7 linked regions of the Homo sapiens genome follow. The protein of the gene in region 3 interacts with the protein of the main gene of each other region in a pairwise test. Each region holds a gene or a part of one and is shown on either strand. Other genes may lie near its edges.

The links.
Region 1: the proteins of STX8 (region 3) and GPR152 interact in binary tests that used the Homo sapiens proteins (3 or more experiments, as listed by UniProt).
Region 2: the proteins of STX8 (region 3) and GPX8 interact in binary tests that used the Homo sapiens proteins (3 or more experiments, as listed by UniProt).
Region 4: the proteins of STX8 (region 3) and NDUFAF2 interact in binary tests that used the Homo sapiens proteins (3 or more experiments, as listed by UniProt).
Region 5: the proteins of STX8 (region 3) and MCEE interact in binary tests that used the Homo sapiens proteins (3 or more experiments, as listed by UniProt).
Region 6: the proteins of STX8 (region 3) and GORAB interact in binary tests that used the Homo sapiens proteins (3 or more experiments, as listed by UniProt).
Region 7: the proteins of STX8 (region 3) and TSPAN12 interact in binary tests that used the Homo sapiens proteins (3 or more experiments, as listed by UniProt).

The regions. Positions count from the first base shown.
Region 1 is NC_000011.10:67,450,801-67,453,874, forward strand, and holds GPR152 (probable G-protein coupled receptor 152), read right to left. Parts: upstream 1,930-3,074; 5' UTR 1,925-1,929; coding exon 512-1,924; 3' UTR 501-511; downstream 1-500. UniProt on the Homo sapiens protein: Orphan receptor.
Region 2 is NC_000005.10:55,165,484-55,167,797, reverse strand, and holds the end of GPX8 (probable glutathione peroxidase 8), read right to left. Parts: 3' UTR 501-2,314; downstream 1-500.
Region 3 is NC_000017.11:9,254,321-9,257,820, forward strand, and holds part of STX8 (syntaxin-8), read right to left. Parts: intron 1-3,500. UniProt on the Homo sapiens protein: Vesicle trafficking protein that functions in the early secretory pathway, possibly by mediating retrograde transport from cis-Golgi membranes to the ER.
Region 4 is NC_000005.10:61,098,705-61,102,204, reverse strand, and holds part of NDUFAF2 (NADH dehydrogenase [ubiquinone] 1 alpha subcomplex assembly factor 2), read right to left. Parts: intron 3,214-3,500; coding exon 3,173-3,213; intron 1-3,172. UniProt on the Homo sapiens protein: Acts as a molecular chaperone for mitochondrial complex I assembly. Complex I functions in the transfer of electrons from NADH to the respiratory chain. The immediate electron acceptor for the enzyme is believed to be ubiquinone.
Region 5 is NC_000002.12:71,109,187-71,113,229, reverse strand, and holds the end of MCEE (methylmalonyl-CoA epimerase, mitochondrial precursor), read left to right. Parts: intron 1-2,371; coding exon of another isoform or gene 2,372-2,392; exon of another isoform or gene 2,393-2,467; intron 2,468-3,107; coding exon 3,108-3,260; 3' UTR 3,261-3,543; downstream 3,544-4,043. UniProt on the Homo sapiens protein: Methylmalonyl-CoA epimerase involved in propionyl-CoA metabolism.
Region 6 is NC_000001.11:170,551,750-170,554,334, reverse strand, and holds the end of GORAB (RAB6-interacting golgin), read right to left. Parts: intron 2,321-2,585; coding exon 1,873-2,320; 3' UTR 501-1,872; downstream 1-500.
Region 7 is NC_000007.14:120,809,645-120,813,144, forward strand, and holds part of TSPAN12 (tetraspanin-12), read right to left. Parts: intron 927-3,500; coding exon 819-926; intron 1-818. UniProt on the Homo sapiens protein: Regulator of cell surface receptor signal transduction. Plays a central role in retinal vascularization by regulating norrin (NDP) signal transduction.

The sequences.
Region 1 (3,074 bases), on a different chromosome or scaffold from region 3:
AGGCTCCTGCTTGGGGCTGGTGGCTCCTGGGAGGCCCCCTTCTCTTCAGGGACTTTTTTGTTTCACGTCCTTGTGTCCAGGCCCGGAGGAGGAGAGGGAGGGAAGGACCAAAGGGAGGTCAGGTCAAGCCCGGGGAAAGTGCCCCCTGTTGTCTTCCTCCAGCAGGACTGAGGCCCAGGGAAGAATAGTCAGCGGGGTCTGGGGTGTTGAGGGACAGTACCCCGCAAGATGCCATTAGCTGCGGTTTGGGGGCTGTCGGGCGACTGTGTGTGTGTTGGGAGCAACCACAGAAAAGGCTGATGGCCGGGAGCAGGGGTCGCTGACATGGAACTGCCTGAGACTTCTGGCTGGATTGTTTCCCCTCCCTCAAGTCCTCCTTCCAGGCCTGACGGACTCAGCAGGGTTTTTAAGGACAAAGCTGTCGGCGGCTCCCCACCTGTCTGACTGGCTGGTTCCTCTGTCTGCCCTGGGCTCTTTCACTGCTCTGGTGGGCCTGCGTGTTCCTGGACCCTCACGTGGGGCCTGCGCCCGGGGCCGCCTCTGGCGGGGTGCTGCTGGGGCTTTCTCCTTCAGAGGCAGGAGGTGTGGCTGGGTCCTCAAGGGCCCCTGGGGTAGGATGCGAGGATGGGGTTGGGGAAGCTTCATCACAGGGACTGGGCACAGAACTGGCAGCAGGTGCAGGGGTCTGGACGTTAGTGTCTGCCTGTGGCTGGGCCACAGAATCTGACTGTGGCTGGGCCATGAGGTTCAGCTGTGGCTGGGCTGTGGGATCCGACTGTGGCTGGGCCGTAGGGTTCAGCTGTGGCTGAGCTGTGGGATCCGATCGTGGCTGGAGTGTGGGGTTCACCTGAGGCTGGGCCACAGGATCCATCTGTGACTGGGCCTCTGCCATCGGCTCTGGCAGAGTTGGACCCTCAGAATCTAGCTGGGTCTGTGGCTCAGTGGGCGTGAAGCTGCCCGGCCGCTCCTCGCAGAGAGCTGCCGCGAAGGACGAGAGCACGGAGCGCAGCAGGGTCCGGAGGTCGGCACTGGCCATGAGGCAGAGGAAGGGGCTGAGGCAGCTGTTGAGTAGGATCAGGTAGTCGGAGTAGACCAGGGCCTCCCAGAGCAGGTAGCCAGAGTAGACGTCCCACAGGAAGGCCAGGTAGAGCAGCTGGGCCAGCTGGTAGGGCAGCCTCAGGACCACATAGGCTGACAGAATGGTCCTGGCCACACGGGCGAAGCCCCGGCAGGCTGCGGGCTGCTGTTGGCGGTGGCAGGTGCGACAGGCTGTGGCCTGGGTGAGCACGTGGCAGACGAGCAGCAGGAGGAAAGGCAGGAAGCCCCCCAGGACCTCCAGCATCCTCAGCGACAGCTCCTCGCTGTCCCAGAAGTCCAGGCAGATGACCAGGTCGTACCACCAGACGGCAGCCTCGGGGAAGACCAGCCAGGGCACGCTGAAGAGTGTGGCCAGCACCCAGACACCGGCGCAGACCCAGAGGGGCAGGCGGACTGGGCGGTGCCCAGGGTACCAGTGTGGGCACAGCGCCAGCAGGCAGCGGTCGAGGCTGAGGGCGGCCAGCAGGAAGAGGCCGGAGGAGTAGGACACGCCCCATAGGAAGTAGTAGAAGCGGCAGGCAGCTGTCCCCAGCGGCCAGTGTCCCCCATGCCGGATCTCTAGGATCTGGAAGGCCGCTGCTGCCAGGAACAAGAAGTCAGAGAGGGCCAGGCTGAGCAGGAGCAGCGCCAGACGCGTGCCAGCTCCATGCCGGGCCTGGGAGCCGGCCAGCCACGCCATCAACCCATTGGCTGGCAGCCCAAGGAGCAGCAGGGCCACCAGGAAGACCGTGTCCCAGCCACCTTGGGGGTAGGAGTCCTCATCATCAAGCTCTGTGCGGGGCCTGTGGCCAGTGGCACCCAGGTCAGCTTCCATGGTAGTGTCCATTTGGGGTCCCCAGAGTCCTGCTGGACACGGAGTGGGTGCCTGGTGAATCAATGATGGTGTGAATGACCGAGTATGGGAGAGACGGTGCTGTGCATCTCCAGGCAAGTCACCATCCCTCCCTGCGCCATTGTCATCACCTTTTGAGTAATTATCCTATGCCAAGGACTTGAAGTGGATGACCTCATGGAGTCCTCATACAATCTACTTTACAGGCGAGGACAGGAAGGTTCAGAGAATCAGTGAAGGTAGGAAGGGAGGTGCCAGGGCTCAACCCAGACTTTTCTTTTCTTTTCTTTTTTTTTTTTTGAGAGACAGGGCCTTGCTCTATTGCCCAGGATGAGTGCAGTGGCACAGTCCCTGCAGCTTCCACCTCCTGGGTTCCAGCGACCCTCCCATCTCAGCCTCCCTAGTAGCTGGGACTACAGGTGTGCACCCACTACTTTTTAAATTTTTAGTAGAAACAAGGTCTCACTGTGTTGCCCAGGCTGGTCTTGAACTCGTGAGCTCAAGTGATCCTCCTACCTTGGCCTCCTGAAATGTTGAGATTACAGGCATGAGACACTGTCCAGACAGACTTAATCTTCTGCCATGTAGAATCCCAATGGGTCCGGATAGACTAACCCGGAGGCTTTCAAACATTGTTAAAGGTATGGAATTTTGTCTGTAAGTAAAGTATTCTAAGGCCGGGCACGGTGGCTCACACCTGTAATCCCAGCACTTTGGGAGGATCACCTGAGGTTGGGAGTTCGAGACCAGCCTGACCAACATGGAGAAACCCCATCTCTACTAAAAATACAAAATTGGCTGGCCGTGGTGGCGCATGCCTGTAATCCCAGCTACTCAGGAGAATCGCTTGAACCCGGGAGGCAGAGGTTGTGGTGAGCCAAGATCGTGCCATCGCACTCCAGCCTGAGTAACAAGAGCAAAACTCTGTCTCAAAAAAAAAAAAAAAAAAAGTATTCTAGTGGAACTCCTATATGGACTAAAAGGGGGTGCTCAAATTAAGGGAGGGAAGAGTACCCCTACCCCCCAGGGTTCCAGGGAACACAGTTTGAAGACCGTTTGGTCCGCTCATCACAAGGCCCCTTTATGCCTGCTCCTCTGGGGTTCGAGTGTTTAGGATTCCAAGAAGGGAGGGCTCTGGTTCCCA
Region 2 (2,314 bases), on a different chromosome or scaffold from region 3:
TGACCTCTTTGGGCTCAAGCAATCCTTCCACCTCAGCCTCCTATGTAGCTGGGACCTGAGGCATGTGCCACTACACCCAGCTAATTTTTTGATTTTTTTTGTGGAGACAGGGTTTTGCCATGTTGCCCCAGGCTGGTCTCTAACTCCTGGGCTCAAGTGATCCTCCCACCTCAGCTGCTTAAAGTGCTGATATTACAGGCCTGAGCCATCATGCCCATCACCAATTATCACATTTTTAGAAATTTTGCATCCTAGTTACTAAACCAGTGGTAGATTGAAATTGACCATGAGGGAGCATGAGCATTTACATTGAGCTGGCAAATGCTGTATGTCAGGATTCCTCCTCCAGAGTCTGCTATTAAACATGTACCAGCCACCATTATATATATGCTAGATACACTGCAGTTATTAAGAATTATATATATGTACACGTATATATACTATTGATACAGTGTAATTGTTAAACATTTAAAAAAATGAAATACAACTTTCAGGGCACATTTCAGCCAAATTCATATTTATTCCAGTCTCTAACACTCTGTTGTTATGTCTGCTGTAAGATGATCAGGAGTTAGTATGAAGTATTCTTCTCTACGCACCAAAGAAAACAAACAAAGCAAACTTCAAGTCAGTGAATTAGTTACCACAGTTAAAATGCATTTGATTTTGTCCTTTTCCTTTTTCACAAGAACGACAGCTGAATACTCTTTCATGTGATGCCTGATATTTTTCTTTTTCTTTTTCTCTCTTTTTTGAGACAGGGTCTTTAAGATGGGGTCTCGCTCTGTTGCCCAGGTTGGAGTGCAGTGGTGCAATCTTGGCTCATTGCAACCTCAGCCTCCTGTTTTCAAGTGATTCTTCTGACTCAGCCTCCCAGGTAGCTGGGATTACAGGCATGTGCCACCGTGCCCGGCTAATTTTTGTATTTTTAGTAGAGATGGGGGTTTCACCATGTTGGCCAGGATGGTCTCGAACTCCTGACCTGAAGTGATCCACCCGCCTCGGCCTCCCAAAGTGCTGGGATTACCGGTGTGAGCCACTGTGCCAGGCTCTGATGTTGATATTTTTCTGTTACAGTCCTTAGCCCAGGCATCCTGTAGCACTCTGTGTCCCAGACTTTTTGATGCAGAAACAAGACTGAAGGAAGATTGTCCAATATAGGAAAGATTCAACTTTTCCTCTATGTGTTTGTCCGCTGGTATTCCTATGAGGCATTTGAGTTACAGGTAGCAGCACATCAGCAAATGACTCCGCTCCCTCTCTCAGCACACATAGCCTAATTGTTACAGAACCCCGAAGGGACACCTGAATGTCCTTTCTTTCAAGGCAATATGTATGACACGCTTTCAAATCTCCTCCTGCCTACTCTGCTTACCTAAAGGGCAAGGGGAGAAAATCCAGCACTGACATAGAGTCTGTAGGTTGAATAAGGCAGCCAAGATTAGAGAGATGTAAGTGAAGAAACCCACTTTATCTGGCTTTGGAGAGAGCTAGTGACTTAAGGCAGGATGTTCATCTGTATCATGTTGACTGGGACAGTCCTGGTTGTTCCCAGTGCAGCTCCATTATCATCCATCTGGCAGTGGGGAGTCTCTGCTGCCCATGTGGTGCTGGCATATGCAGTTCTGCTCATGCTCCTAACGTGAATGCATAAAACACCCCTGCAGTGCCACAGCACTGCTATGAGTTCATGGAAGGCGTAGGTGAGGATACAAGGCAAGAGTGCTCTGGCACCAACACTTGGAGGGGCCACCTGAGCATAAGTTTTCTTAGAGGCTCAGAATTCAAATTGCTAATAGGCTCTTGGAGCAAAATTGCAAAGGACAGATAGGCTTGTTGGTGGCTTCTGTTTTCTTCGCTAACAATCCAGGTTAGTTCTGATTTCCTTCCTGGTCACTTAAAACACCTTAGTAAGTGTGTTAATTGACTTTTAGAGTTGCAAAGGGCTTTTTATTCCATTCAACCCCTGTTCAATTTACAGGTGAGGAAACTGAAATAAGGTACTTAAGTGACTTGCCTAAAGTCACGCAGCTGGCGAGAGGTAGGAGCAGGCTTTCTGACACACTCATCTGGCATTCTTGAGGCTATCCCTACAAATCCTCTTGACCTCTGGTAGAAATTCCACCTCCACCAAATATCTTTCTAAATACATTCATAGCTGGGTGGCTGGATATGGACTCTGAAGCAGAAGATGCTTCATGAAATATTTTTGGTTTATCTAATAACTTTGGTCCAAATACGTATACAGAACTATATACTGAGGTAGCATTACTGAATTTGCCATACGAAACATCTTCACTTTCATCCATCAGGT
Region 3 (3,500 bases):
GCATTTTCCCAAAGAACTCTTTGTCATCCTCCAGTTACCTGTGCCCTCTTTGCCCCCCTAAGTTTCCATGGTAACTCTTATTAAATCTTTTTTTTTTTTGAGATGGAGTCTCGCGCCCAGGCTAGAGTGCGGTGACGTGATCTTGGCTCACTGCAGCCTCCGCCTCCTGGGTTCAAGCAATTCTCCTGCTTTAGCCTCCCAAGTAGCGGGGATTACAGGTGCCCACCACTATGCCCGGCTAATTTTTGTATTTTTAGTAGAGACAGGGTTTCACCATGTTGGCCAGGCTGGTCTCGAACTCCTGACCTCAAGTGATTTGCCCTCCTGGGCCTCCCAAAGTGCTGGGATTACAGGCGTGAGCCACCGCGCCCGGCCTTGAATCATTATTTAGGTACTCAGTTACTGTCTGTCTCTCCTGGACACATGAACATCTACACCAGGGACTGTGGGTTCTCGTTCACCGCCATATCCCCCGTACCTAGAACAGAGCCTGGCACAGGAAAGAGGCACACACACACGCGCACGTGTGTGCATGTGTGTGTGTGTGTATAAAACAAATGAGTAAATGTATTGAATTTTTGGAAGGGATAAGAAGAGTCAAGAGAGGCATAGAAGGAGTGGTCAGCAGAGAGGGAGAAGCTGAGAAAATGTGGCAAGAAGGCCAATGAGTAAGAAAATTCAAAAAGTGGCCAATGCCAACCCACAATACTACAGAGACAAGATAGAAGAATGCTCTTCCACAGAAGAGCTGCAGAGACCTTTCATAGTACAGTTTTAGCGCATGGTGGGTGGGTCTAGTGGAACTATTATTAATACAGTGGTGGCTAAGCTGCTAATTTTTCTACCACAGATGCTGTGAATTAGACAAACTGTGCCCCAGGAAAGGCATGACAGGGCACACATTATCTATAAAAAATGAAAATGGGCCAGGCGCTGTGGCTCACGCCTGTAATCCCAGCACTTTGGGAGGCCAAGGCGGGCGGATCATCTGAGGTCAGGAGTTTGAGACCAGCCTGGCCAACACAGAGAAACCACGTCTCTACTAAAAATACAAAAATTAACCGGGCATGGTGGTGCACGCTTGTAGTCCCAGCTACTTGGGAGGCTGAGGCAGGAGAATCACTTGAACTCGGGAGGCGGAGGTTGTGGTGAACTGAGATTGTGCCACTGCACTCCAGCCTGGGCAACAGAGCAAGACTCCATCTCAAAATAAATAAATAAATAAATAAATAAATATATAAATAAATAAATAAATAAATAAATAAATGAAAATGAACTTGAGTGATGGACATCTTGGACAGTAAGCTGATAAGATGTGATAAACTGGGTTCTTGTCCCAAGATGAAAAGGAGGATTTTAGGAGCCATGACAAATAAGGCTTTTATATTTTAAACCCTTTCAGAGCAAACAGGGGGAGACTTTAAACAGGCTTAAGTAAACTGGTATATACTGAGGGTCAACTGAGGAGGTCGTTTTAAGATGGCAGGTGACAGCGATAAGCAAAAGCCAACTGCTGTCTTTTGGATTCTTTGGGTCAAAGAGAAGGTGTTTATCTACCTTAGCACGGCAATCCTTTTTCTTTAAGAAGTTTGGCTTTCTTCGAATGTGATCCCAGCTCTGGCACCTTTCTGAATGGAGTTTCTCTCCTCTGAAGGATGTTTCGGAATGAGTAAGCAGGGATCTTTTTGAAGCCAGGGAAAGCTGAGCCACACCGTTCATGAAACAGTCATGCGTGCCAGGTTTGGCACTAAGTGCTATGGGTGTATTACTTGGTTTAATTCTGCACAGTAAGTAACCCTCATCTCTGTTTTATATCTGAGGAAGCTGGGGTTCTGGAAGGTGAACTCTCCTACCTAAGGCCCTCTGGCGGGTAAGAGGAAGAACTAGAATTGGAATCCAGGTGGGTAGGACCCCTCTGCCCACACGCTCACCCTTGTCTACACCAGTGGAGCTTGAGTGGAGGCATCCTGATTCGAGACAGTGTGGGGGTCCCTCGGGGAGAGAGGCTCAGACTCACTGGGGTTGAAACACCGGGATCAAGAGTTTCTTCTCTTTTCATCCTCTTCTCTTTCTCCCTCCCTCCTTCCCTTCCTTAACGTTTTATGATGGAAAATTTTAAACATATACAAAAGCAGACCGAAGGGCACGCAGAACAGTGATGAGCCCATCCGTCAGCTTTCGCAAGGATCCATTCATGGCCTGTCTGGCTTTATGCAAACCCTCACCTGCTCCCTGTCTCCTGCATATTATTTTGAAACAAATTCCAGACATAGGTCATCTACAAATATTTCAGTAAGTATCACTAAAAGGCACCATTAAAAAGACACACACACTCCCCCACTACCCACATAACCACAGAGGGTCTGACGGTTCCTAAAGGCAGAGGCAGGGAAGAGCTGGCAACTCTTCTGATGTAGGAAGGTGGCTCCAGTTTCAGGGGCGCAGCCGACCCCCCTGCCGGAGGGACATGGGACCTCACATCGTACTCGGTCACGTGTGAAAAGCAGAACTTCCTTCTTCTGCCTCAGAATAGTTCTTAAACCTCAGGGGGGTCTACTCATCCATTCCCCCAGCTAAGGAAATGTTTGACATTTCAGAACAAGGAAAGACAGTTGAACTTCTGGGAGGCTGCCAACTTCTTAAACAATGAATGCTCTCTGCCCCCAACCCTAGCACAGAACACCTGCTGCGGCTCCTGACTTCGGGATCGTTTCTCTGCGCTTCACTCAGCTCCTGCCCTGGGCCCGCTGGCACCTGGCGAGGCAGATTTTCCCTTCCAATACTCAAGAGTCCCTTTCAGGGGCAGGCATGGGATGCCAGGGTTACAAGAGTGGAAAAAAATGTCCATTTCCTTTGGTCAGTTTACCAGATGAGTATTACTCAACCACTTACAATATTTACAAGTCCAGCTCATGGCAATTAAAAAAAGATGTAAGAAAACAAACTCCTTTTCAAACTGGGAGAGGATATTAAACACAGTCTCTCAGGAATGGTGTTTTCTGAAGACTCGTCATCTGGAGTCATGGTCCATACTTTTTTCCAGTGAAACACTGGAAACGAGCAAAATACGGAGCTTGTGCTGCCAACGCCCCTGCCACAAGTTGGGTGTAGGTAACAGCTCTCAGTGCTTACTGACATGGAGGAGGAGGGGAAGGAGGAGAAAGAATCTGGAGGCTGACTTTTCGAGAGAGTGTGGATCTCTGTGTTGGCCACTTCTGCCCTGTAGCTGCAGGGGAACGTGGCAAGTAGGCTGATGGGAAAGCAAGAGGCAGGGAGGGGTGAAGGGCGCTTTATCCAGGAGTCTTTTTATCTGGTTTTGTTGCAAGGAAAGCCGCCTTAGCTGCCTACTACTATTTTGGTTGTCTTGAACCAAAACACATATTCTGGCCAGGCGTGGTGACTTATGCCTGTAACCCCAGCACTTTGGGAGGCCAAGGCGAGTGGATCACCTGAGGTCAGGAGATTGAGACCAGCCTGGCCAGCATGGCCAAACCCCGTCT
Region 4 (3,500 bases), on a different chromosome or scaffold from region 3:
CTTTTACATTTCCAAATATATTTTCAAATCAGCATGTTGATTTCTATCAAAAAAGTCTGACATGGTTTTAACTGGATATTCATTTTATTAAATCTATAAATCAGTGGTTCACAAAATATGGGCTATGAACCATCAGCATCAGCATCATCCAGCAACATGTTATAAATGCAAATATTCAGGCCCTACCTCAAAACTAATGGATCAAAAACTCTAAGCTTGGGGTCCAGCAATCTGTGTTTTAACAAGTCTTTCAGGTGATGCAGATGCAAAATAAAAGCATAAGAACTACTGTGGATCAGTTTGGGAAGAATGAATACATTAGCAATATTGTACATTCCAATCCATGAACAGATACTTCTCCCCATTTATTTAGGTCTTATTTAATGTATCTTACCAACATTTTGTAGTTTTGAGTACACAGATCTTGCACATGTTTTGCTCACTAAATTCCACAGTATTCTATGTTTTCTAATACTGTTGTAAATGACATTCTAATGGCTGCTGGCTAACCTTTAGCAATAATATATAGGAGATATGAAAGAAAGTTTATTTGGAGTTGGGTATTCACTAAAAGATCTGGAAAAAAAATCTAGTTTCTGGATCCAGTTGTCAACTTGGAAGGAAAACAGTGGACAGAGGAACATGATGAAGTGCACCAGGAACATAAGATCAGCAAAATCTAGACTGTGGCAAATTCTGTAGGCCAACTGGGCTGGGTATTTTAACACATAAATTTCTAAGGAAGTAAAAGAAATGGAAGAGGATAGACTGAAAGATTTAAAACAAATACGAAGTTTTTACGAAATGGACAAGTCTAAACTATAATGTACATTTAGGTGAAAAAACTATTTAAAATGAGAGGAAATGATTACTATAAAAGTTGGCTTAAGGTTTTCTTTTGTCAAGAGAGAGAAGGTTGTGATTAGGATGGGATATATGGGGCTGAAGTAGATGGCAAAGTTGTGTTTCTTGACCTGGGTGGAATTTGCCTTATAATTTCACAGCTTAATAACTAAATAAGCTATTTTTTTGTTACGGTTTATAAATATATGTTTTACTTTACATTAAGAAAAATTTTTTCCTCTTAATATGATGTATCTAGAATTTGGATTTGAAGAGTGTAAAAGTTACAGTGGTAAGAACTGTGTTTGATAAAAACTAAAGTGTGCCTAATGAAGTGGTTGTTCACTTGAGGCAGGGATACTAGTATGGATGAAGTCAAAGAACTGGAAAGCTAAAATTTGGGAAAGCATTGAAAGGAGAAGACCATATTCCAGGTTCTAATCTCGACCATCAGTAAGGTAGACTGGCTTGGATGTTGGCAAACATAAAAATGATGGTCAGGTACAGAGAAATACACATGGATTACAAAGGTCCTCCACTCTCTTGGGTCCACAAACAAAGACTATTTGGGGAAGCAAGAAGCAGTTGAACTCACTTTCTTTATGTGGGGCGTGGGAAAGCGAGCACAACTTACTTCAAGGAAAAAAAGGAACTCACTATCTTGCAGGCACAGACGGATTTCAGTTGAGGTTCTGTGGTAGAGAAAGTTTCCAGGAAAATATTAATGGTGAATGGTAATTTGCTAACAAAGAAACAGAAATTCCTGAAACACAATGGAAAGGGCCAAGAGGAAGGAAAAGAGTGTGTGTGTGTGTGTGTGTGTGTATTAGGGAGGGTACGAAGCAGCATAAAGAACAATGTGATTGATAGTACACTTAAAGGGAGGCAACAAAAGAGGGCTCATTTTGGATAATCAAAATTAACAAGAGTGAGCTCAGGGATGGAAGGACTTGGTGTGTTCTGGCTAGAGATTGTTTGAGGTGCTGAAATTACCTAAAATTTACAGAAGTTGTGCCTGAGGCCCAACTATTGCAATTGCCTCCATTAATCACTTTGCATATTAATGTTTCTATGAATAAGGCTTTCAAAGTTCTGAGGATGGATGAAGCAAATGATAACAGTAGCTCTTATTATGACCAAGAGAAGGAGAATCAGAAGGCTCTTCAATCCATCCTTCACTGTAAACTACTGGGCATACTTCTGAATCCTGGATCATATTGCCTTTTATTTTTTCCCCCCAAAACAGCTTTTATTCCAAATTTTATCAATGTTGGAAAGAAGGGTCTGCGAAAAGTAGGCCAAGGCAGAAGCAACATACAAAGCTAGAAATGGGTCAAGAGATGTACTCAGTCAGACCCTGGCCGAATGAACATTAATGGGTTCAGTATATGACAAATGTATGGAGCAAATAAACATAAGCATGCCAGTTGAGGTATCATCATTATCCTGCTCTAGAGCACTCCACTTCCCAACAAATGGGGATTGAGTACCGGAGCCCATTTATGTTGTCATCAGGGCTTGTAGTAGTGACAGAATAGGCAACAGAAGAGAGGAGGGAAGTCCTAAATAGTAGAAGAAAGGGAATGCCTCTAGACAAAAAGTAAACAAGGCAGTACACTAATGCATTTAGAGACTCTCCTTTTATGAAATTACTTCTTATAAAATAACTTTAGAGGTCTTTACATATTTTTAAAATTAAAATTATAATTTTTATAAAATAATCTATATAAAAATTATATTGTAAAACATATATACCATAGCATTTCTATGTTTTTTTATTGTTTATCACTGACTACAAATTTTTTAGTTTTAAATAAAAAGTCAACTAATAATTACTGTTATAAAATAATTGCTAATTCTGTATTTTAAAGTTTCTTTGGATACTTGATGGATTTAAATACATAATATTAAGGGAAACATAAGAGCATGATTTGGACAAGACAAAGAGATTCAGTGTTTCTCAAACTTTTCCACAAAAGCTTGAGTATTGGCACAGAGAACCCCCAGGGCCCAGGGGAAATAACCTGGTGCAAACTGCTCCAAGTTCAGACTTTCTACAGAGTGTTTTAATTTTGTTTTAAATTTTTATTATTTCACTTTAAAATTTATACAAATTTTGTTATATTCCATAATATGAGCATTTATTTTATCATATATTATTTTATTAATAATATAGGTTTATATATTAATTTATTATAAAATGTTTTAAGTTATTTTCTGTGATGGAATAAAATCAACACTTTGAGAAAATACATCATAGTTTTTCTGAAGCTTCGTATATCCTTGGGAATATATACTCCTAAATGATATCCTCCTTGTGTAGTCTTACCTCCATAGTAGGTGGAGTCTTTCTTGTTCTTCTAATCCAAGCTAGAAAGAAAAATAATATTTAAATGTCAGTTTCCCATAATTTACACAAACATTTTTATCCATAAAACAAATTTTTTTGAGTACCTACTCCATATTATTTTAGGTACTGGAGATACAGCAGGGAATAAAACAGATTAAGTCCCTTCTCTACTGTAGCACATGTACTACTGAAGGGGTTGCAGAAAATAAACACACAAACATATGGTTGGTGGTGATATGTGTCATGAAGAGAATATAATAGTGTAGAGAAGATAAAGAGGGGACAGTTTCATATGTTTAAAATCATA
Region 5 (4,043 bases), on a different chromosome or scaffold from region 3:
TCCTCAGAGCATACTGACGTCTCCAGCTCTAATCCATTACCACATAGACCACACTAGCCTTTATCTTCTCATTCCAACAGTGAGAAACTTAGCTCCCACTATCAGCCATCCATCTACTTCGTTGTTCAATTTCGGTATGATGTGTGGTAGTTATATTTGTCTTCTAGGGCTGCTATAATAAATGATCACAAACTTAGTGGCTTAAAACAGAAATTATTCTTTTCACAGTTCTAGAAACTAGAATTCCAAAATCAAGAGGTAAAAAATATGGAAGAAAAAGAAAACAGAATAGAGCATAAGACAGATGTAGGACATGGTCAAAAGTTCTAGCAGAATATAGTTGGAGTCCCAGAAAAGGAAGAGAGAGAAAATAGAACAGAAGCAGTAATTGAAAAAATAGTTGACAAGGACACTACCAATCTGATGTAAAACATCACTCTATGGTTTCAAGAAAGTCAGCAACCCCAAGTAGGGCAAACAGAAAACTACACCAGGCCGGGCAACAGTGGCTCACGCCTGTAATCCCAGCATTGTGGGAGGCCAAGTCGGGCAGATCACTTGAGTTCAGGAGTTCGAGACCAGCCTGGCCAACATGGTGAAACCCAGTCTCTACTAAAAATACAAAAATTAGCCAGGCATGGTGGCACATGCCTATAATCCTAGCTACTCAGGAGGCTGAGGCAGGAGAATCGCTTGAACCCAGGAGGCAGAGGCTGCAGTAAGCCAAGATCATGCCATTGCACTCCAGCCTAGGTGACAGAGTGAGACTCTGTCTCAAAAAAAAAAAAAAAAAAAAGGCAGGTGCAGTGGCTCACGCCTGTAATCCCAGCACTTTGGGAGTCAGAGGCGGGCACATCACAAGGTCAAGAGATCGAGACCATCCTGGCCAACATGGTGAAACCCCTTCTCTACTAAAAATATAAAAATTAGCTGGGCATGGTGGCGTGTGCCTGTAGTCCCAGCTACTCTGGAGGCTGAGGCAGGAGAATTGCTTGAACCCTGGAGGCAGGGGTTGCAGTGAGCTGAGATCGCACTACTACACTCCAGCCTGGGTGACAGAGTGAGACTCTGTCTCAAAAGAAAGAAAACCACACCTAAGCACACCATAGTCAAACTGAAAATCAAAGATGACAAGAAAATCTTAAAAGCAATCAAAGTAAAAAAGACATATTATAGAATGACATGTAATGACACTTTTTAGTTGCTGACAGAAAAAACCTGCCAATTTAGAAATCTGATTCCGGCCAAGTTGGTGTAAAAGAGATCAGTTTATCCTCCCTGAAACAAACAAGCAACCTAGACAAAATACATGACATAATGGATTTCTGGCATTGGACATCAGGCAGCACAGGAATTGATTTCTGAGAGAGGGTAAACAAACAAGATGAGCCCTACAATTACCCAGTTTACTGGCTGTAGAGAGTTTCCAGACTGCAGTGCAGGAAGGGGGAATCCACGTGGAACTTAGTGGTCTCCCTGAGTTGCGGAGATAGGAGTTGGAAGTCTGAGGAGGCCATGGTGCTAGAGTTCACAGCTCTCTCCTGGAAAGGAGAGCTGCACAGAGAGTGAACTCTAAAGATCTGTAGTACCTTTCATGTCTTCATCGGAGCTTCGAGTATTGCACGCATGTTAGGAAGCTAGAATAGAACCCCTTGAAAGGATTAGAGGGAATAATCCACACACAGAGGTGGGGATAGTTTTTTCTTACTAGTCATAGTAATTTCCGTAACATTGGGAAGAGTACTCAGAAGGGCTTTGGCTTGGTAGTGAGGAAAATTAGTCCTAGACTAAAAGCTGCTCCAATCCCACCTAACGCAGCAGAAGAAAAGCTTAATAATATTGATATGAATTTAAAAATAAGATAAAATTGACAATGTCTGACATCAGTGAGGACCAATTTTCCTCACTAAGTGGGTCGAGCCGTTCCTGCCACGAGCTTCTAGTGCATGTTCTATTCTGAAAAAGATGAGAATTAACCAGCTACAGTGCAAGATGTCATGAAATGAGCTGTGTTCAGAATCTAGGCACGTGTGACTTTGACATATCTATGAGGTTTAAAAAAGAAATATCAGGAATACAAGTAGAATATGTGCCATATGAAGAAATCATAGCTTATTTATGTAACATTTAGTATCCTCATTAGCTGTTTGACTGGTTTTAGAATTCAGCATATAATCCTTGGCTCTTTGGAAATAAAATTGTATAAATACTAATATTTATTAGATCTGAATGGTAGGTACATGGGTGTTAAACTAGTCTCTGTGCTTTTGTGTGTTTTTTTTAATTAAACTAGTGATTTTAATTAAACTAGTGATTTATGACTGCCTAGGAATGTGGCCATTCATATCATACCTTTTCATCCATTTCTTAGGTTCCCAGTCTAAGTGGGTGACTTTCCAAGATAGAGGCAGATCATTTCTCCGTCAAGTATAGAGAGACACATCTGCTCCTCCTAGAGTGTCCATAAGTATGAAGAAAATAGAAATAACTTAGAAGAGGCTGCAAAAACATTAAAGTTTGAAATTTTTTTGGGTGGGGAATAACATTTTGATGGCAATTTAATAGTGATTTTCATGTGTGTCTTGATAATGTCAAAGGTAATAACCAGGTGTTTTGGCAGGGCAAGTTTTGGGGATCAGGGAAACACTCATATTTGCTAAGTACCTATTATGCCATAAACTGTACTGAAAGCTTTTTATCTGTTACCTCATTTTAATCTGTAGTCAATTTATGTGGTAGACCTCATTTGCCTGTTATAGATGAGGACCCAGGGTTCTCAGGAAAAAGCAATGTCTTCAATCTCACTAATAGTACTGCCAGAATAAACTATTATAAAGTATATCATACATGATTTAGATTATAAGAAGAAACATTTACTAATGGTGAAAATTCTGAGCATTGTGGTTGCTTACCTAGAAAAATTTAGTAACTTCTCTTACTTCTCTGAAAATTTTAAGCTTATTTTTTATGATGATTTAAGAATGGTCCTGCCCACAGGCAGAGGAGATAGACTGCATGAGCTCTCAAAGTTTTTTCTAAGTCTTATGATACTATAAGTTGGTATTTTTATGATCTCAAATGTGTTCAATTTATTTCCCTTTCTTAAGGTGGATAATATTAATGCAGCTGTGATGGATTTGAAAAAAAAGAAGATCCGCAGTCTAAGTGAAGAGGTCAAAATAGGAGCACATGGAAAACCAGTGATTTTTCTCCATCCTAAAGACTGTGGTGGAGTCCTTGTGGAACTGGAGCAAGCTTGATTTATATTTGCAAGCAACTAAATTAATTGACCTGAAAAAGCCTATCAAATACTATCAAAATGTACTATGACATTGAGTCCTTCACTGCTTCCATCATGTAAAAGTTCACAGTTAAAGACTGAATTACAGAAAGATTAAAATATATACATATATAAATACATAAATATGTATATTATTTAGATTAACAAACATATTTGTTAATTTGAATTTGAAGAAAATCTTGATTACTAATTACTTAGGGAACATTATTAAAATCATATAGAAATAAATTATTCCTCTTCTACAATGGGGTAATTGAATGTAATGTGTTAGCTGTGTACAAGGGTATGTGTGTGATGGATGGATACACAAAGGAGTTATGAAAGTATGACAATTTTGTGGCTAATATTTGGGGCAAAAGTTTCTAAGAATGTTTTGGAATACTTTTTTAGAGCAAGCTGTGTAAGATTAGGGAATTTTAATCTCAGAAGTTTTGCTCTTCAAAAACAACTCGTGGTCACAGTTTCCTCAGGGTCCAGGTGTTTTGGGTGCTAGGGCTAGATGTATAGGAAGTTTTGTGGAAAACCTGGTGCGTCATCTAGTAGGCATGTAGATGTCTGAATTATTTTTTTAAATCAGTAGTAATTTGTAGAGTTAGGTATCACGTAGATGCTAGAACACCACAACAGGTCCTAGGGGAATATACAAAATGAATAGAAATCCACTGCCAAGATGCTTATGGTTCATTTGGGGAGAGTACTGCTTGAAATAAATGTAAACACTTACAAAACAACATCTGAATGA
Region 6 (2,585 bases), on a different chromosome or scaffold from region 3:
GACCAGCCTCGCCAACATGGTGAAGCCTCGTCTCTACTAAAAATAGAAAAATTAGCCAGGTGTGGTGGCAGGCACCTGTAATCCCAGTTACTTGGGAGGCTGAGGCAGAAGAATTGCTTGAACCTGGGAGGTGGAAGTTGCGGTGAGCCGAGATCGTGCCACTGCACTCCAACCTGGGTGGCAGAGTGAGACTCCATCTCAAAAAAATAAAAGATTAAATTAGATTATCTCTGAGGTCTCATCTAACTTATATTTTTTTCACGGTTCTCATTTCTTCATATATCTTTGAAGGGTTTACACTGAGAATTAAGATTGCACATGCCTGCATTTAACCAATATTATAAAACCTCACTGATAATGAATTTTCCTTAACAGAGGCTTAATAAAAGTAAGTAACTGTATGTACCACAAGGAGATCCAAGATGCATTATTGTCACACAATGCTTAATACATACTAAACTGTTTGAAATTTTTTTAAGGTAAATGAAAGACACTATAAGTACATCAGACTTGTTTATTCCTTAGAAAAAGAAGTGTGTTAGACAATGAAACTGTTGGCTTTTATGTATTTCATAAATAAAAGCACAACTATCTATAGAAATGCTTCTGTTTAGAGAAGTCAGTAGTAAAATGTTATACTTTCAACTCAAATTACATAATATAAAAATATAAAGCTCATCTATATTACCAGAAGATAATACCCTCAAACAAACCCATTTAAAAACAGGATGTCCCTAAGTTTTTCAGAAACTTTTATGGATACAATCTTATACTTGTGCTTATGTTCTCTGATAATAATTCTTTTTTTAAAAAAAAAAAGTCCTCAAAGGTAATATTTTTACTTTTTGGAATTTCTGATAAATAAATCATAATGTGATATTCACAGACTTTGTGAGAAAATTACAATATTTATTTACACATTTACATATAGCACAATGTATTGGTCAAGTACTAGTAACAGGCAATTAACAAACTAATAAGAAAATCAGCATTTTAACAATTTAAACGCTTCATGACAGGGTAATTCATGTCCAACATATCAAAAACATATTTATAGATAACTTTAGAAAGAAAATACATACTTTTTTTGATAATCACAAGTAGCAATGAGATTTTCTATATTATTTTCAGTCTCACTTTAGAAATGTTTTAATTGTCTAAATTTAATCAATTCATCGATTAAAGGAAAGACAATAAAATAGTAAAATTACATGTGTTTATATATAAGTGTGTGTGTTTCAAATAACAAAACGCAGGTTGTAAACTAAAATCACTGGAAGGCAAATTGAAGACAAAAGTGATGCTGGTTTAAGTTGTTTGGTTCTTCACATAAATTCCAGTTTCCAAGTTGTGTTTTACAACTCTAGTAATATCCAGATAGATAATTCAACCTGCAACTTTTTTCTTCTATTCCTGTTTTTCTCTTGTTCACACTGTAATTTTTGTCTTTTTACTGATACTGATTAAATAAAATAGGACTTCCAGTCTTAATACGTCTCCCAGGAGAAGTGAAATGAGTTTAACTAGGTATTGAGTATCATTTTCCATTTTACTTTTCTATATTTATCTGATCTAAAAACACTCCAACCATGTAGTTTTTCTTCCATCCTTTTAAGTCACTTACTTTCAGTAAAAAGGGTAAACGGAACACTGAAAGAACCGGGCCAAAATCAAGGTGAAACATACCCCTAGAAATACAGTTATCATAATTTTGGATTTTAGAATGGCCAAACCTATTAATTTACTAAAACTAATCATGAATTCAAAAATCAGCATTGTTTTAAAGAGGTTTTTATTGGAGGTCAGGGCATGATCTACTGCAAAAAGTATACTTTACTCAATACCATATTAGCTCAAAAGAATACCAGAACTTCATGTGGCCAAAGCAGCTGAAATGTCATTACCTTCTTGATTTGGGCAGTTTGGACTAAGAAAGGGGATGCTACTGGAATTTCCACACTGGTCATCTACCTTTGGGGAAACAGCTTGTTCTTGACACTTTCTGTTCTCTTTAGCAAATTCTAATGTCACACTCTCCTCCGCAGGCTGAAATGGCCTCTCTAAACGAACCACTGGTCTCCTTGATTCTACTTCTTGTTCGTGTAGCAATCTCTCGACCTCCACCTCAAGCTCCAAAGTCTCTTCATCGGCTTCTACATCTAGTTGTTGCATCAACTCCTCCAACTTCTTGGCCTTTCGGAGCTCATTTTGCTGTATGATCGTACAAAGGTGTTCAGTGAGTTGCTCTTTTATCTCAGTCTTGCGCTGTATATCTAGCTTTGCTGCAATGTACTCTGCTTCAGCCCTGTCAAACCGCTTCCTGTAAGGATGTGTATAAAGATAGGTCCATCAGTTTTCCATTGAAGAAGATATTCAAAAGAGGATCTAGAAACAATAACTCAACTCCAAAATTGGGAAAAAATATATAATGAAGATACGGATATTACTACTTTACAAACACTTGTCTACATGTTGGCCAGACTAGGCTATGGCTGCTGAAACTTTCACAGTATCCTTACTTGAATTCACCTAATGAAAACATGTTATTCTGCACGAATGTTTTCTTTACAAAGCTGTTTTTGAGT
Region 7 (3,500 bases), on a different chromosome or scaffold from region 3:
TCCATCTGGGAATGTCACTTCAATCACAAGGAAACTGCTTGGAAGAAGAGCTTGGTTTGAAGCAAGATCAATGGTTAACTCCAAGTCACCAAATTTTAAACATCTGAATACAGTCCCCACTTGAGAAGATGGTTGGGTGCAGTGCTACATGGCGGTTAGGTAAGAAATGCTAAACGCACCTATACTTTGTAATGTTATTGTTAATAACCATAGGCTAAATGAAATCGCATCATTTAATCTTCTTAACAACCTGAAGAGAGAGGTATTTTTATTATCACTATTTTAAAGGTGAGAAAACCAGGACTTAAGGGAGTTATGTAAATTATAGAAGCTCACTTAATAGCAAGCAGCACAGCTATGATTTTAACCAAGGTCTTTCTGAACAGATCATGCCATTAATGATATACTGACTTCAAAGTCCCAAATGAGAACAATCATTTTTTTTAAAACTAAAATTATGTTTAAAATATTGAGAGCTCTAAAAGTCATGAAAAAATCTATTTGTCTGGAACTTGGATATTTATCAAGTTAACTCTCATAAAAAGAAAACTTCACAATAATTTAGCAAAATGGCTTTTCAGATGTTCTTAAATATATGTGAACCATGTGAAATAAAGGGGAAATGGTATACATGGGAAGAAAAGCAGGCCATGAAGTTACCTAAGATATTTTTCAAGAAATAATTGCACCAGAGGTTACTGAATCACAGGCTTAATTTTTCAGCACAGAGGAAATTACCAAAGCTAAAGCTTTAAACATCTGGTTTGAAGGTGCACCACTTACTTCACTCTCTCTACCTCAGAAATTGTAGCACTTACCTCTCTCTGAAAAAAATTCCAAGCATGAGTAAGCCACCGATATCTAGGTAATCCATAATTTGTCATCCTGGCTTTCAAAGTGACCATATCTGACCATTGTACTGGAACCTGGTGATAAAAAGCAAAATATCAACAGCTGTAGCTCACACACAGACACAGATTCACACACACACACACACACACACACACACACGTACACACGCATACTCGGAATGTCTTCTAATTGACAAATACTATTTTAAATTTATATTTGCTCATGGCCTAAATTTAGCTCAGAGTATTCAATGTAGTTATTGGACAATCTCAATGTATAGATTTTTGTGATAAATGAAGAGGTATTTTGTACTAAGGAAAAAAATGAGAAATCACTTTAATGCTCAAGGAAATCACCAACAAGTAATTAACTGTACATCCCACAGACATACTGAAGACTTTCACATAACAAATAACCTCTGCAGAGAAATGTCCTTCATTTGATTTCAAAATGCTATGAAGTTGTTGCTCTTTGAAGCAACTGCAGATAATAGTACTAAAACAAAGAGGAAAGAATTAAGAAGGGAAAGAATTTGGCTCAACTCAAGCCTCACTCTGGGATAATTTTATCAACACTTTTTCAAAAGTTGTAATTAAGAGGTATGTTAGAATTTTAGAAAGAACAGTTCTCCACTTTTACACTGTTGGTGGGAATGTAAACTAGCACAACCACTATGGAAAACAGTGTGGAGATTCCTTAAAGAACTAAAAGTGGATCTACCATTTGATCCAGCAATCCCACTACTAGTTATCTACCCAGAGGAAAAGAAGTCATTATATGAAAAAGATACTTGCACACTCATGTTTATAGCAGCACATTTCGCAATTGTAAAAATGTGGAACCAGCCCAAGCCCATCAATCAATGAGTGGATAAAGAAAATGTATATATCAGCTGGGCATGGTGGCTCACACCTGTAATCCCAGCACTTTGGGAGGCCAAGACGGGCGGATCACGAGGTCAGGAGATCGAGACCATCCTGGCTAACACAGTGAAACCCCGTCTCTACTAAAAATACAAAAAAAAATTAGCCGGTGTAGTGGCGGGTGCCTGTAGTCCCAGCTACTTGGGAGGCTGAGGCAGGAGAATGGTGTGAACCCGGAGGGCGAAGGTTGCAGTGAGCCGAGATCACGCCACTGCACTCCAGCCTGGGTGACAGAGCGAGACTCGGTCTCAAAAAAAAAAAAAAGAAAAGAAAATATATATACCATGGAATACTATTCAGCCATAAAAAGGAAAAAATAATGGCATTCACAGCAACCTGGATGGAATTGCAGACCAATATTCTAAGTGAAGTAACTCAGGAATGGAAAACTAAGCATCGTATTTTCTCACTCGTATGTGGGAGCTAAGCTATAAGACACAAAGCCATAAGAATAATACAATGGACTTTGGGGACTCGGGAGGAAGGATGGGAGGGGGACGAGGGATAAAAGACTACACATTGGGTACAGTGTACACTGCTCAGGTGATGGATGCACGAAAATCTCAGAAATCACCACTAAAGAACTTATTAATGTAATCAACTACCACCTGTTCCCCAAAAACCTATTGAAATAAAAAAATTAAAAATAATTTAAAAAGAAAGAACAGTTTTTAAAGTAAAGCATTTTTGTGCTTCTATTCTCCAATCACCTAGCACCATGTCTATTACAGAGTATTTAATCATGACAGAGCTTTAGGTATACAGTACCACAGTCATTGTTGTAATACAATACAATACAACAGTCATTACTGGCCAGAAATCTGGTCAGTATATCAAGCTATGATTTTACTGCAGGGCCATGAGAAATTGAGGTATACAAATGCAAATCTCATTACACACACAGTATTAAGGCAACTCTGGGAAACTGGATGGACATTCCCATCTGATCTATGAAGTAATATAGACTGGGCTTAGTAAAGCAAGCTTGACATTCAACAAATAACACAAAGATAGAGAACCAAAAAGGAAAAAAGGGAGACATGAGCAAATAAGGCTCCAACAGAACTAGAGATTAGGATTATTATGAAATCTTATTTTTTAAGATAGTCATATCGATAGAAGCAGTTTCAAAATTCCTGACCACAGAAAATCTTCGTTTTTTTCTTTGTTAACTTTTTTTTTGATTACTTGGAAATACACAATAAAACATCCAAACACTTGGGCACACATTTTTTTCCCCCAAATAATGGGCTAAACGGGTGTACTTTGTGTTCATATGCCTTCAACAAGGTTCAGGGAACTAGTCAAAGTTCAAGCTACTCACCATAAATTAATATTATCTCATAACCTTTTGGGCATAAAATAAATGGAAGTGAAATAAATTATCTAGAAATGTACAATCTGAAACTCTTATCACTGACAGATTTTATCTAGAGAAGGAATAATGAATAGAAGATGAGCAGTACAAAAAAAACCAGAAATAATGAGAAAACACATTATCTGATGTCAAGTTACTTGATTTAGTTAATATATCAATTTTTTTAAACTTTACCTTCTAAAATAAATACAGGTTGTTTCCTTATTGTGACCACTATCAATCTGAGACCAAATGTGGAAGAAAACAGAGGAGACCATTGAGGTTCTGGCACAAATACTGAGGTCTGGTCATAAAGTAACACACAGGTTGATTGGTTCCTTGCATGGAACAGCTAAAAGCACAAAGCC